Homo sapiens: one gene and its partners. The gene in region 3 interacts genetically with the main gene of each other region. Each region holds a gene or a part of one and is shown on either strand. Other genes may lie near its edges. The genes, in order: NSMCE1, LIAS and UBA2.

What was found.
Region 1: changes in UBA2 (region 3) and NSMCE1 together harm fitness more than expected from each alone (negative genetic interaction), as found in Homo sapiens cells (one large-scale study listed by BioGRID).
Region 2: changes in UBA2 (region 3) and LIAS together harm fitness less than expected from each alone (positive genetic interaction), as found in Homo sapiens cells (one large-scale study listed by BioGRID).

The regions. Positions count from the first base shown.
Region 1 is NC_000016.10:27,262,181-27,265,832, forward strand, and holds part of NSMCE1 (non-structural maintenance of chromosomes element 1 homolog), read right to left. Parts: intron 1-3,652. UniProt on the Homo sapiens protein: RING-type zinc finger-containing E3 ubiquitin ligase that assembles with melanoma antigen protein (MAGE) to catalyze the direct transfer of ubiquitin from E2 ubiquitin-conjugating enzyme to a specific substrate.
Region 2 is NC_000004.12:39,476,017-39,479,768, reverse strand, and holds the end of LIAS (lipoyl synthase, mitochondrial isoform 1 precursor), read right to left. Parts: intron 2,707-3,752; coding exon 2,654-2,706; 3' UTR 263-2,653; downstream 1-262. UniProt on the Homo sapiens protein: Catalyzes the radical-mediated insertion of two sulfur atoms into the C-6 and C-8 positions of the octanoyl moiety bound to the lipoyl domains of lipoate-dependent enzymes, thereby converting the octanoylated domains into lipoylated derivatives.
Region 3 is NC_000019.10:34,434,770-34,438,421, reverse strand, and holds part of UBA2 (SUMO-activating enzyme subunit 2), read right to left. Parts: intron 3,555-3,652; coding exon 3,454-3,554; intron 1-3,453. UniProt on the Homo sapiens protein: The heterodimer acts as an E1 ligase for SUMO1, SUMO2, SUMO3, and probably SUMO4. It mediates ATP-dependent activation of SUMO proteins followed by formation of a thioester bond between a SUMO protein and a conserved active site cysteine residue on UBA2/SAE2.

The DNA of each region.
Region 1 (3,652 bases), on a different chromosome or scaffold from region 3:
TTGCAGTGAGCCAAGATCACGCCATTGCACTCCAGCCTGAGCAACAGAGTGAGACTTCATCTCAAAAAAAAAAAAAAAAAATCACATGGAACCAAAACAGAGCCTGAATAGCGAAAGCAATCCTAAGCAAAAAGAACAAAGCTGGAGGCATCACGTTACCCGACTTCAAACTACACTACAGGGCTAAACAGCATGGTGCTGGTACAGAAACAGGCACATACACCAATGGAACAGAATAGAGAGCCCAAAATTAAGGCCATACACCTATGACCACCTGATCCTTGACAAAGATGACAAAAAGAAGCAATGGGAAAAAGACTCCCTATTCAATAAATGGTGCTAGTATAAGTGGCTAGCCATATGTGAAGACTGAGGCTGGACCCCTTCCTTACAGCACATACAGGAATCAATTCAAGATGGATTAAAGACTTAAATGTAAGACCTAAAACTATAAAATCCCTGGAAGACAACCTAGGCAATACCATCCTGGACACAGGAACGGGCAAAGATCTCACGACAAAGACACCAAAAGCAATCACAATGAAAGCAGAAATTGACAAATGAGATCTAATTAAACTTAAGAGCTTCTGCACAGCAAAAGAAACTATCAACAGAGTAAACAGACAACCTACAGAATGGGAGAAAATATTTGCAAACTATTTACGAGAGAAAATCAAACAACCCCATTAAAAACTGGGCAAAGGACATGAACCAACATTTTTCAAAAAGAAGACATACATGTGGTCAACAAGCATATGAAAAAAAAGCTCAGTATCACTGATCATTAGAGAAATGCAAATCAAAACCACAATGAGATACCATCTCACATCAGTCAGAATGGCTATTATCAAAATGTCAAAAAATAACAGATGCTGGCAAGGTTGCAGAGAAAAGGGAAACTTATATACTGTTGGAGGGAGTGTAAATTAGTTAAACCACTGTAGAAAGCAGTGTGGCAATTCCTCAAAGAGCTAAAAGCAGAACTACCATTTGACCCAGCAACCCCATTCCTGGGTATATACCAGAGGAACAGAAATATTCTACCATAAAGACACATGCACGGGAATGTTCACTGCAGCCCCATTCACAGAAGCAAAGACATGGAATCAACCTAAATGCCCATCAATGACAGACTGGATAAAGAAAATGTGGTACCTATACACCGTGGAACACTATGCAGCCATAAAGAAGAATGAGATGATGTCTTTTGCAGGAACATGGATGAAACTGGAGACTATTATCCTCTGCAAGCTAACACAGGAATAGAAAACCAAATACCACATGTTCTCACTTATAAGTGGGAGTTAAATGATGAAAACTTATGAACACAAGGAAGGAAACAACAGACACTGGGGTCTATTTGAGGATGGAGGGTGGGAGGAGGAAGAAGAGCAGAAAATATAACTATCGGGTACTGGACTTAATTCTTGGCTGATTAAAAAAGCTGTACAACAAACCCCTATGACGTGAGTTTACCTATCTAATAAACCTTCACGTGTGCTGCCAAACCTAAGTTTTTTTAAAAAAGCATATGATCATCTTAATGATGCAGAATATACAATTGATAAAATTCAACATGTACCTACACCAAAAACAAATTTGGAATCGAAGAAAACATCTTTTATCTACTAAGTGACGTCTACAAAAAACCTGCAGCAAACATCATACTGAAAAATGAAATGTTGGCAGCAATCACTTTAAAAACCAAATTGACCCAATGCAATTGAATCAATGCTATTACAGTCAGCATCCCAAGAGGCTTTGTGTATGTGTGTGTGTGATTTGACAAGATGATTCTAAAAATTTACATAGAAAACACAAAGGCAAAACAGCAAAGACATTCCTGGGAGAAAATAAAGGCAGAAGGACTTGTCCTACCAGCTATAAAGACTTCTCATATTTGCTGGGCGCGATGGCTCATGCCTGTAATCCCAGCACTTTGGGAGGCTGACGTGGGCAGATTGCTTGAGCCCAAGAGTTCAACACCAGCCTGGGCAATGTGGTGAAACCTTGTCTCTACTAAAAACAAAAATTAAAAAAAAAATCGCTGGGCATGATGGTATGCACCTGTAGTCCCAGGTACTCATGATACTGAGGTGGGAGGACTGCTTCAGCTCGGGATGTCGAGGCTACAGTGAGTCATGATTGCACCACTGCATTCCAGCCAGGATGACAGAGTAAGATCCTGTCTAAAAACAAACCAAAACAAAAAAAGCACTTCTTATAAAGCTAGAGTAACGAGTACAGTGTGGTAATGGTACAGAGATAGACAAATAAGACCAATCAATGGAACAGAACAGAGAACTCAGAAACGGAAAGGTATACATATATGGATACTTGATGGCGGATGAAAGCAAACTTTCCAATAAAAGGTGCCAGGAAAACTTGTTATCCATATGTAAAAAAATGAATAAAATTTGATTCTTACCTCATACTATATACAAACATCAATTCTGAAGGGATAAGGTCATAATAAGGAAAAATACTGTAAGACTTTTAGGCAATATAGAGAATATATTTATCACCTAAGGGTAGGGAAGGATTTCTTTAAGAGATATAAAAAGTACAGGTCATAAAGGAATATACTGATAAACTTGACTTTTGTTAAAATTAAGGGCCTCTATTCACCAAAAATACCAGAAAGGTGGGGGTTAGGGGATACAAACTGGAGGGCATTTAAAACAAACATAAGCTACAAAATACAAAAGATTCATATTCAGACTATATAAGGAATTCCTACAAATCAGCATGGGAAACACAACTGTAAAAGAGAAATGGGCAACAGAAATTTTACAAAAAGAGGATGCATAAATGATGAATAAATACAGAAAAAAGATGCTCAATCTCAATGTTATCAGACAAATGATTATGAAAACCACAGTGAAGGAATGTCTTAGCCACCACCAGACAGGCAAAAATTTTAAAAGAATGGCTGAGGCTGAAACTTTCATCTGCTGCTGGGAGAGTATAAATTCTTTTCCTTTTTTTTTTTTTTTTTTTTTTTTGAGACAGGGTCTCACTCTGTTGCCCAGGCTGGAATGAAGTGACACAGTCATAGCTCACTGCAGCCTTGACCTTGTGGGCTCAATCGATCCTCTGACCTCAGAACCCCCTAGCAGCTATGACTACAGGCACACACCACTATGCCCGGCTAATTTCTGTATTTTTTGTAGAGATGGGGTCTCACCTGTTGCCCCAGCTGGTCTCATACTCCTGGACTCAAGCGATCCACCCACCTCAGCCTCCCAAAGTGCTGGGATTACAGGTGTGAGCCACCACTCCAGGCTGAGTATAAATTATTGTAACCATTTCAGATAACAGTTGATATTACTAGCAAATTTGCATATCCCCCGAAATCTACTATTAGGTATATACCTTACAGAAACTTCCACATTTGCCCTAGGAGATATGTTTTTACAGAAGCACCTTGTAATAACAAAAGTCTGGCAACAGTATAAATGCCTACCAACTGAAGAACTACATTAAAACAATATAATCATCCCATAGAATTCAAATCAGCAATGAAGACAAAGTAGAGCTCCTCACATCAACACGCATACTTCTCAGAAAGATAATGTTAAGTGCAACAAGCAAGTCACACAAAATATATTTTAGGATCCTATTACATAAAATCGAAAACTCAGCAAAAGCA
Region 2 (3,752 bases), on a different chromosome or scaffold from region 3:
CATCTCTACTAAAAATACAAAAATTAGCTGGGCGTGATGGTGTGCGCCTGTAATCCCAGCTACTTGGGAGGCTGACGCAGGAGGATCACTTGAACCCAGGAGGCAGAGGTTGCAGTGAGTTGAGATCGCGCCACTGCACTCTAGCCTGACAGAGTGAGACTGTCTCAAAACAAAAGAAAGTTGGTAGGGTTAAATTTGCATCCCAAAATTTACTAGCATCTATAAAGACATACATTACTTTTTTTTTTTTTTTTTTTTGAGGAGTTTCACTCGTTGTCCAGGCTGGAGTGCAATGGTGTGATCTCAGCTCACTGCAACCTCTGCCTCCCAGGTTCAAGGATTCTCCTGTCTCAGCCTCCTGAGTAGCTGGGATTACAGACATGCGCCACCACACTTGGCTAATTTTTTAATTTTTAGTAGAGACAGTGTTTCACCATGTTGTTCAGGCTGGTCTCAAACTCCTGACCTCAGGTGATCCACCTGCCTCGGCCTCCCAAAACGTTGGAATTACAGGCATTAAGCCACCATGCCCGGCCCATGCATTACTTAAAAAAATTTTTTTTGAGACACGGTCTCTGTCACCCAGGCTGGAGTACAGTGATGTGATCTCAGCTCACTGCAACCTCTGCCTGTCAGGTTCAAGTGATTCTCCTGCCTCAGCCTCCCAAATAGCTGAGATTACAAGCATGTGCCACCACACCCAGCTAATTTTTTGTATTTTTGGTAGAGATGGGGGTCTGACTGTGTTGCCCAGGCTAGTCTCAAACTCCTGAGCTCAACTGATTCACCCGCCTCAGCCTCCCAAGGTGGTGGGATTACAGGCGTGAGCCACCACACCTGGCAAGGATGTGCATTACTTTTATAATACTGGCTCGTTATAAGAATTCAAAACAGAATTGGCTATCCACTTTACATATTTTACAACATGGCCACCTAAAAGTGTCCTTTTAGATATGCAGAAAAAGTAGAAAGGCAGGATTCAGTCAAAAGATGAATCTGAGTTATTAGTATTTTGGAAGGAAATTCCTTTCTCAGGCCTTTACCATCATATAATACAACCAATGTGAGAAATGAAAGGAATAGGGCATGTGGATTTAGCAAGCTACTATACAAATAAGGGTTAATATTTCTAGGTTCTATTTCCATGTCTTAGGCAGCATTATGGCCTTGGTGTTTTCAGAGGGACTAAATGTAATCAGCATAAAACTATTTTGCAGGTTCTGAAGTAGTCACACCAATGTAAAAAATCAACATTTACTTTTTTTTTGAGACAGTCTCACTCTGTTGCCCGGGCTGGAGTGCAGTGGCACGATATCGCCTCACTGCAATCTCTGCTTCACAGGCTCAAGTAATTCTCGTGCCTCAGCCTCCCAAGTAGCTGGGATTACAGGCACCTGCCAACACACCTAGCTAATTTTTTTATTTTTAGTAGCAATGGAGTTTCACCAGGTTGGCCAGGCTGTTCTCAAACTCCCGACCTCAGGTGATCTGCCCACCTCGGCCTCTCAGAGTGCTGGAATTACAGGCATGAGCCACCACATCTGGCCAACATTCACTCTTAAGCCTTTCTAAATTATTCCAATATTACAAGGACAAATGCTAATCTGATGAGTTTCAATCTACGTTGAATGAATGCTAAAGTTGAATGAAATGCTAAACTGATGAGTTTCAATCTATGTTGACTGTTTCATCACAGTAACATAAATGAAGTTTTTATTTTTCATAAATGAAATGTAATGATGTTAACAGTGGATTGGAAAATCTTCTGGAAGTTTTTGGGTTTTTTTTTCAAGACAGAGTCTGGAGAGCAGTTGTAGCGCCCAGGCTGGAGAGCAGTGGCACCACCTCAGCTCATTGCAACCTCTGCTTTCCAGGTTCAAGTGATCCTCTCACCTCAGCCTGAGTAGCTGGGACTACGGGTGCGTGCCACCACGTCTGGCTAATTTTTTGTAGAGATAAGGTCTCATCATGTTGCCCAGGCTGGTCTCGAACTCCTGGGTTCAAGTGATCCACCCGCCCTGGCCTCCCAAAATGTTGGGATTATAGGTGTGAGCCACCATGCCATGTTTTTAATGCATTTTAAAATTATGTTAAAAGAAAATTCTTACAAAGATATTTTAAGATTACATCACAGCAAGCAACTGTTTAATTGGGACAAAGAAGATACACTAAAAGCCAAATGAATTACTGTAATTAAATTTGTACAGTTTATTGACTTTTTTTTCCTTTTTATTTATTTGAGATGGAGTTTTGCTCTTGTCACCCAGGCTGGAGGGCAATGGAGCGATCTTGGCTCACTGCAACCTCCCCCTCCCAGGTTCAAGTGATTCTCCTGCCTTAGCCTCCCGAGTAGCTGGGATTACAGGCACCCACTACCACGCCTGACTAATTTTTGTGTTTTTAGTGGAGACAGGATTTCACCATGTTGGCCAGGCTGGTCTCGAACTCCTGACCTCAGGTGATCCACCCGCCTTGGCCTCCTAAAGTGCTGGGATTACAGGCGTGAGCCACTATGCCTGGCTATTGACATTTTTTTTTTTAAGCAAAGAGGTGGGGCACATCCACTGCAGTCCAGGCATTCTGGCACCACCTCTGTTATTAACTGGAATCAAATTTTAAAAATTTCTGTGATCTTGAAGGTCTTGTTGAAGTTTTAGAGGTCTTTTGTTTTTCTTTTAGCCACTAGATTTTTCAGGAAAAATTCACCTATTTAGGAAAAAGGAAAACACATTAATATCAATTTAAAGTAAATAACAGTGAGACAACTATTTCAGAATTATATTTTTGGTGTTCCCCCTTTAAAGAAGACTTTTGTATTTATTGGCACTTCTCTCTTCTCAAACCTCAATGGCAATATTTTTCTAACCTAAATATCCCCTATTATCTTTGGCCTTTCTCCCCAGCAATAATGACTAGAGTCTCCTACTATTATTCTTTCTAGTAAGCCAATATTACAAAGGGTGACCCTACTGTATATATGGGTCTGCACATTAATTCTACTTTATGTGCACTATCTATCCCTCATCACTGTCAAAGTATTGCTCTTGGCAAAATTCATTTCCAAGAGCAATTTTGCTACATTATTAGGCTGGATCTGATGTTTATAAAACAGATCTCGTTGCAGCTGAGCAGACGCATCTGATGGAATCTCTTTAGCTTATTCCCCTCTAGGGAAGCAAGAGCTCTTCATTTGTAATGGGCTTTCTCCCCACCGCCTGAGTTGTGCCTACGCAATAAGTTAGCAGCTTAGAGGGCACATTCTCTTTTTAGGCCATTAGTGTTCCATTTAGTCTATTGCTCTTACAGCATGACTCAATGCTTATTGGTAGAGTGCAGCACTAGAGGCCTGATTTTATGAGGAGTCTGATTAACTTCTCTTTGTCATCTTACATATGAGTAGAACTGTGATGAGTCTATCTACATATAATCTCTGCAAATCCCAAGGCTCATAACCCAGCCAAGTAATCCATGCTGCTCCATACCTCCTCCAAATGTCGTGGGAGTAGCACCAACTTTATCAGACCCTAATCCATCATTTTAGTCTAATGCTCATCATATACCAGAATCTGATCTTTTCCTGGTAATTTAGAAAGCATCAGAAAGTTCATAATTTACTTCCTTTTATGTTAGAAATTTTTCTTTAGCAAAAGAAAAACTCCTTTCAAAGGACATTACTCTAACCATTCTAGAAGCTGATAGTGGTTCTATCCTTCACATGTATTTTTAGCTTGCCAGCAGTGCTGCTTGAAGAC
Region 3 (3,652 bases):
GGTTCAGTGAACATGACTTACAAGCCCAAATAAAAATTACTACACCTGAGTGTCAAATATGAGTTTACCTTGATCACACTAAACAGAAAAACTACTGGAAAGACAAACAGCAGCTTTCCAAGAAATTATTTCTCAAAGTTGTAAATGTTATCTAAATATTATTCGCAGCCATTTTCTTATATGTGTTTTTTTTTTTTTTTTGAGCAAAACTAAGTGGGTCTGGGGAATACAGCCATATCCTTATAATCTCCTGAAATTAAGTAAACTACAAGATTAATTTCAAGATATATCTCCCTACACAGAAAAATCTTAGGTGTTACTAAACCAAATACTCTTCATTTTATTGATATACGTTTCTTTTTGGCGGTGGGGAGACGGAGTCTTGCTCTGTCACCCTGGCTGGAGTACAGTGGCATAATCTTGGCTGCAATCTCCGCCTCCCAGGTTCAAGCAATTCTCCTGCCTCAGGCTCCCAAAGAGCTGGGATTACAGGCATCTCCCACCACTCCCAGCTAATTTTCATATTTTTAGTAGAGACGGGGTTTTTCCATGTTGGCCAGCTTGGTCTTGAACTCCTGACTTCATGTGATTCGCCCGCCTTGGCTTCCCAAAAGTGCTGGGATTACAGGCGTGAGCCACTGCGCCCAGCCCATTTTATTGATACACATTCAAGTTTAAAATTACAATTTAAGGAATTTATGCCTTGGAAGAAGTACATGACACCTGAGACAACTTTTCAAAACTATCAAATGAATCATCTTTCATTATCTCAGATATTCCTAACCTCAGTCTCTTCTTTTTTTCTTTTTGTCTGAGACGGAATTTCGCTCGTTGCCCAGGTTGGAGTGCAATGGCGTGATCTAGGCTCACCACAACCTCTGCCTCCCGGGTTCAAGTGATTCTTTTGCCTCAGCCTCCCAAGTAGCTGGGATTACAGGTGCGTGCCACCACACCCAGCTAAATTTTGTATTTTTAGTAGAGATGGGGTTTCACCATGTTGGCCAGGCTGGTCTCGAACTCCTTACCTCAGGTGATCCGCCCGCCTTGGCCTCCCAAAGTGCTGGGATTACAGGCGTAAGCCACCATGCCCAGCCACCTTCAGTCTTAATACACAGTGGTGTGTCAGAATCACAGTAACAAGGATATAAAAAGCAATGTCTGGCCGGGCGTGGTGGCTCATACCTGTAATCCCAGCACTTTGGGAGGCCAAGGCAGGCGGATCACCTGAGGTCAGGAGTTTGAGACCAGCCTGGCTAACATGGCAAAACCTCATCTCTACCAAAAATGCAAAAATTAGCCAGGCTAATTGTTCAAGAATCAAAACTCTCAAATACTGTTTTAATATAAATTGCAGCAGATTTAGAGTTTTCTCTGAAACACCATTTCTGATGCCCTCAGCCTTCCAATATGCTTTCTTGAGGGTAGCCACATGGCAAGCAGTCATGAGACTCATACTGCAATGCAGACAGAGAACTTCCGTCTTGATCTGTCAACAGATACTGAAGGCCTCCACTTATTCAACAACTTAATACGCACTGACATACACAACAGTCTTTTGTAGAATGGTATTCAATAAGGTTCCAAGAATAACATTTAACAGTTAAAAGAAACAAAGACACAATTTCTAACATGAATAAGCTGCCAAAAAAAATTAGACGCAACCAGCAAATGTTAAGTACATTATAATTCTCTTTCTATAGTTTCAAAACATGGAAAACGACTCTTCAAATGTAACTACAATATTTAACTTCTTAAAAGAACTGAAAGAAAAAATATCTGAATAGCAAATGAAGCCGTGTTGAGGTTTTAAAAACTGAGATATGTGCCAGGCATGGCGGCTCACACCTATAATCCCAGCACTTTGGGAGGCCGAGGCAGGTGGATCACCTGAGGTCAGGAGTTGAAGACCAGCCTGACCAACATAGAGAAACCCCGTCTCTACTAAAAATACAAAATTAGCCAGGCGTGGTGGCGCACGCCTGTAATCCCAGCTACTCGGGAGACTGAGGCAGGAGAATCGCTTGAACCAGGGAGACGGAGGTTGCGGCGAGCTGAGATCGCGCCACTGCACTGCAGCCTGGGCAACAAGAGCGAAATTCTGTCTCAAAAAAATAAACAAATAAATAAATAAACCAAAACAAAACTGAGGTATGAGCACACAGGTATTTTGTTCTATTATTCTCTAGTTGTATTTAAATGTTTGAAGTACTTCACAAATACACCCCTAAAAAGTTTTCAAAGTTCCCTTCCACATTATAAGCCCAGACTCTTAGACAACAGAATTTTTTGGTTTTTTTTTTTTTGAGACAGAGTTTCGCTCGTTGCCCAGGCTGGAGTGCAATGGCGTGATCTCAGCTCACCGCAACCTCCGCTTCCCCGGTTCAAGGGATTCTCCTGCCTCAGCCTCCCAAGTAGCTGGGATTACAGGTGCACACCACCACGCCCGCTGATTTTTGTATTTTTAGTAGAGACAGGGTTTCACCATGTTGGACAGGCTGGTCTCAAAATCCTGACCTCAGGTGATCCGCTCGCTTCGGGTTCCCAAAAAGTGCTGGGATTACAGGCATGAGCCATCACGCCTGGCTTTTTTTTTTTGAGATGGAGTCTCACTCTGTTGCCCAGGCTGGAGTGTGGTGCCATCTTGGCTCACTGTAACCTCCACCTCCGAGGTTCAAGCAATTCTCATGCTTCAGTCTCCCAACTAGCTGGGATTACAGGTACACGCCTCCACACCCAGCTAATTTTTGTATTTTTTGTAGAGACGTGGTTTCACTACATTGGAGAGGCTGGTCTCGAACTCCTGACCTCAAGTCATCTGCCTACCTCAGCCTCCCAAAGTGCTGGGATTACAGGCATGAGCCACTGCACGCAGCCGACACAAAGAAATTTTTGATGCCTGGTATATCATGCTTACCACTCTAAGGATTTTAATACAAAAGTCAAATGAAACAAAATGGCAGAGCTGAAAGATTTCCTTGCCCATAGTCTTTTGAGCACGTTTATAGCATTTTAAGTTTGTTTTTTGAGACAGAGGCTTGATCTGTAGCCCAGGCTGGAGGGCAGTGGTGCAATCTCAGCTTACTGCAACCTCTGCCTCTCAGGTTCAAGTGATTCGCCTGGCTCAGCCTCCCAAGTAGCTGGGATTACAGGCGCCGGCCACCATGTCCAGCTAATTTTTGTATTTTTAGTAGAGATGGGGTTTCACCATGCTTGCCAGGCTGGTCTCAAACTCCTGACCTCAGGTGATCCGCCCACCTCGGCCTCCCGAAGTGCTGGGATTACAGGTATGAGCCACTGCACCTGGCCCCGCATTTTAAGTTTTATATAAGCATAAAAGTCCTTACATTTTGGATGTTCACCTGTTCATTTTATATAAATACAAAGTTTATTTCCTCCTGCTCCAAGGTCTCAAATAAATATTTGGGAAGTTAAAAAAATAAAACTTTTCTTTACCTTTTTGATAGTAGTTACTTGTCCAAGATACCCAGCTGTTCCACTTTCAATAAGAGGAACATCAGCTGCCAGGCACATTCTATTAACATGGTTTCGGGCAGCTGGAAGTAAAACAAACAGTATGAGTTTTTGGGAAAAAAAAAATTAGTTATCTTTAATTAGGATGACACAGACTCAAAACTATCTTACTGGCTTCATT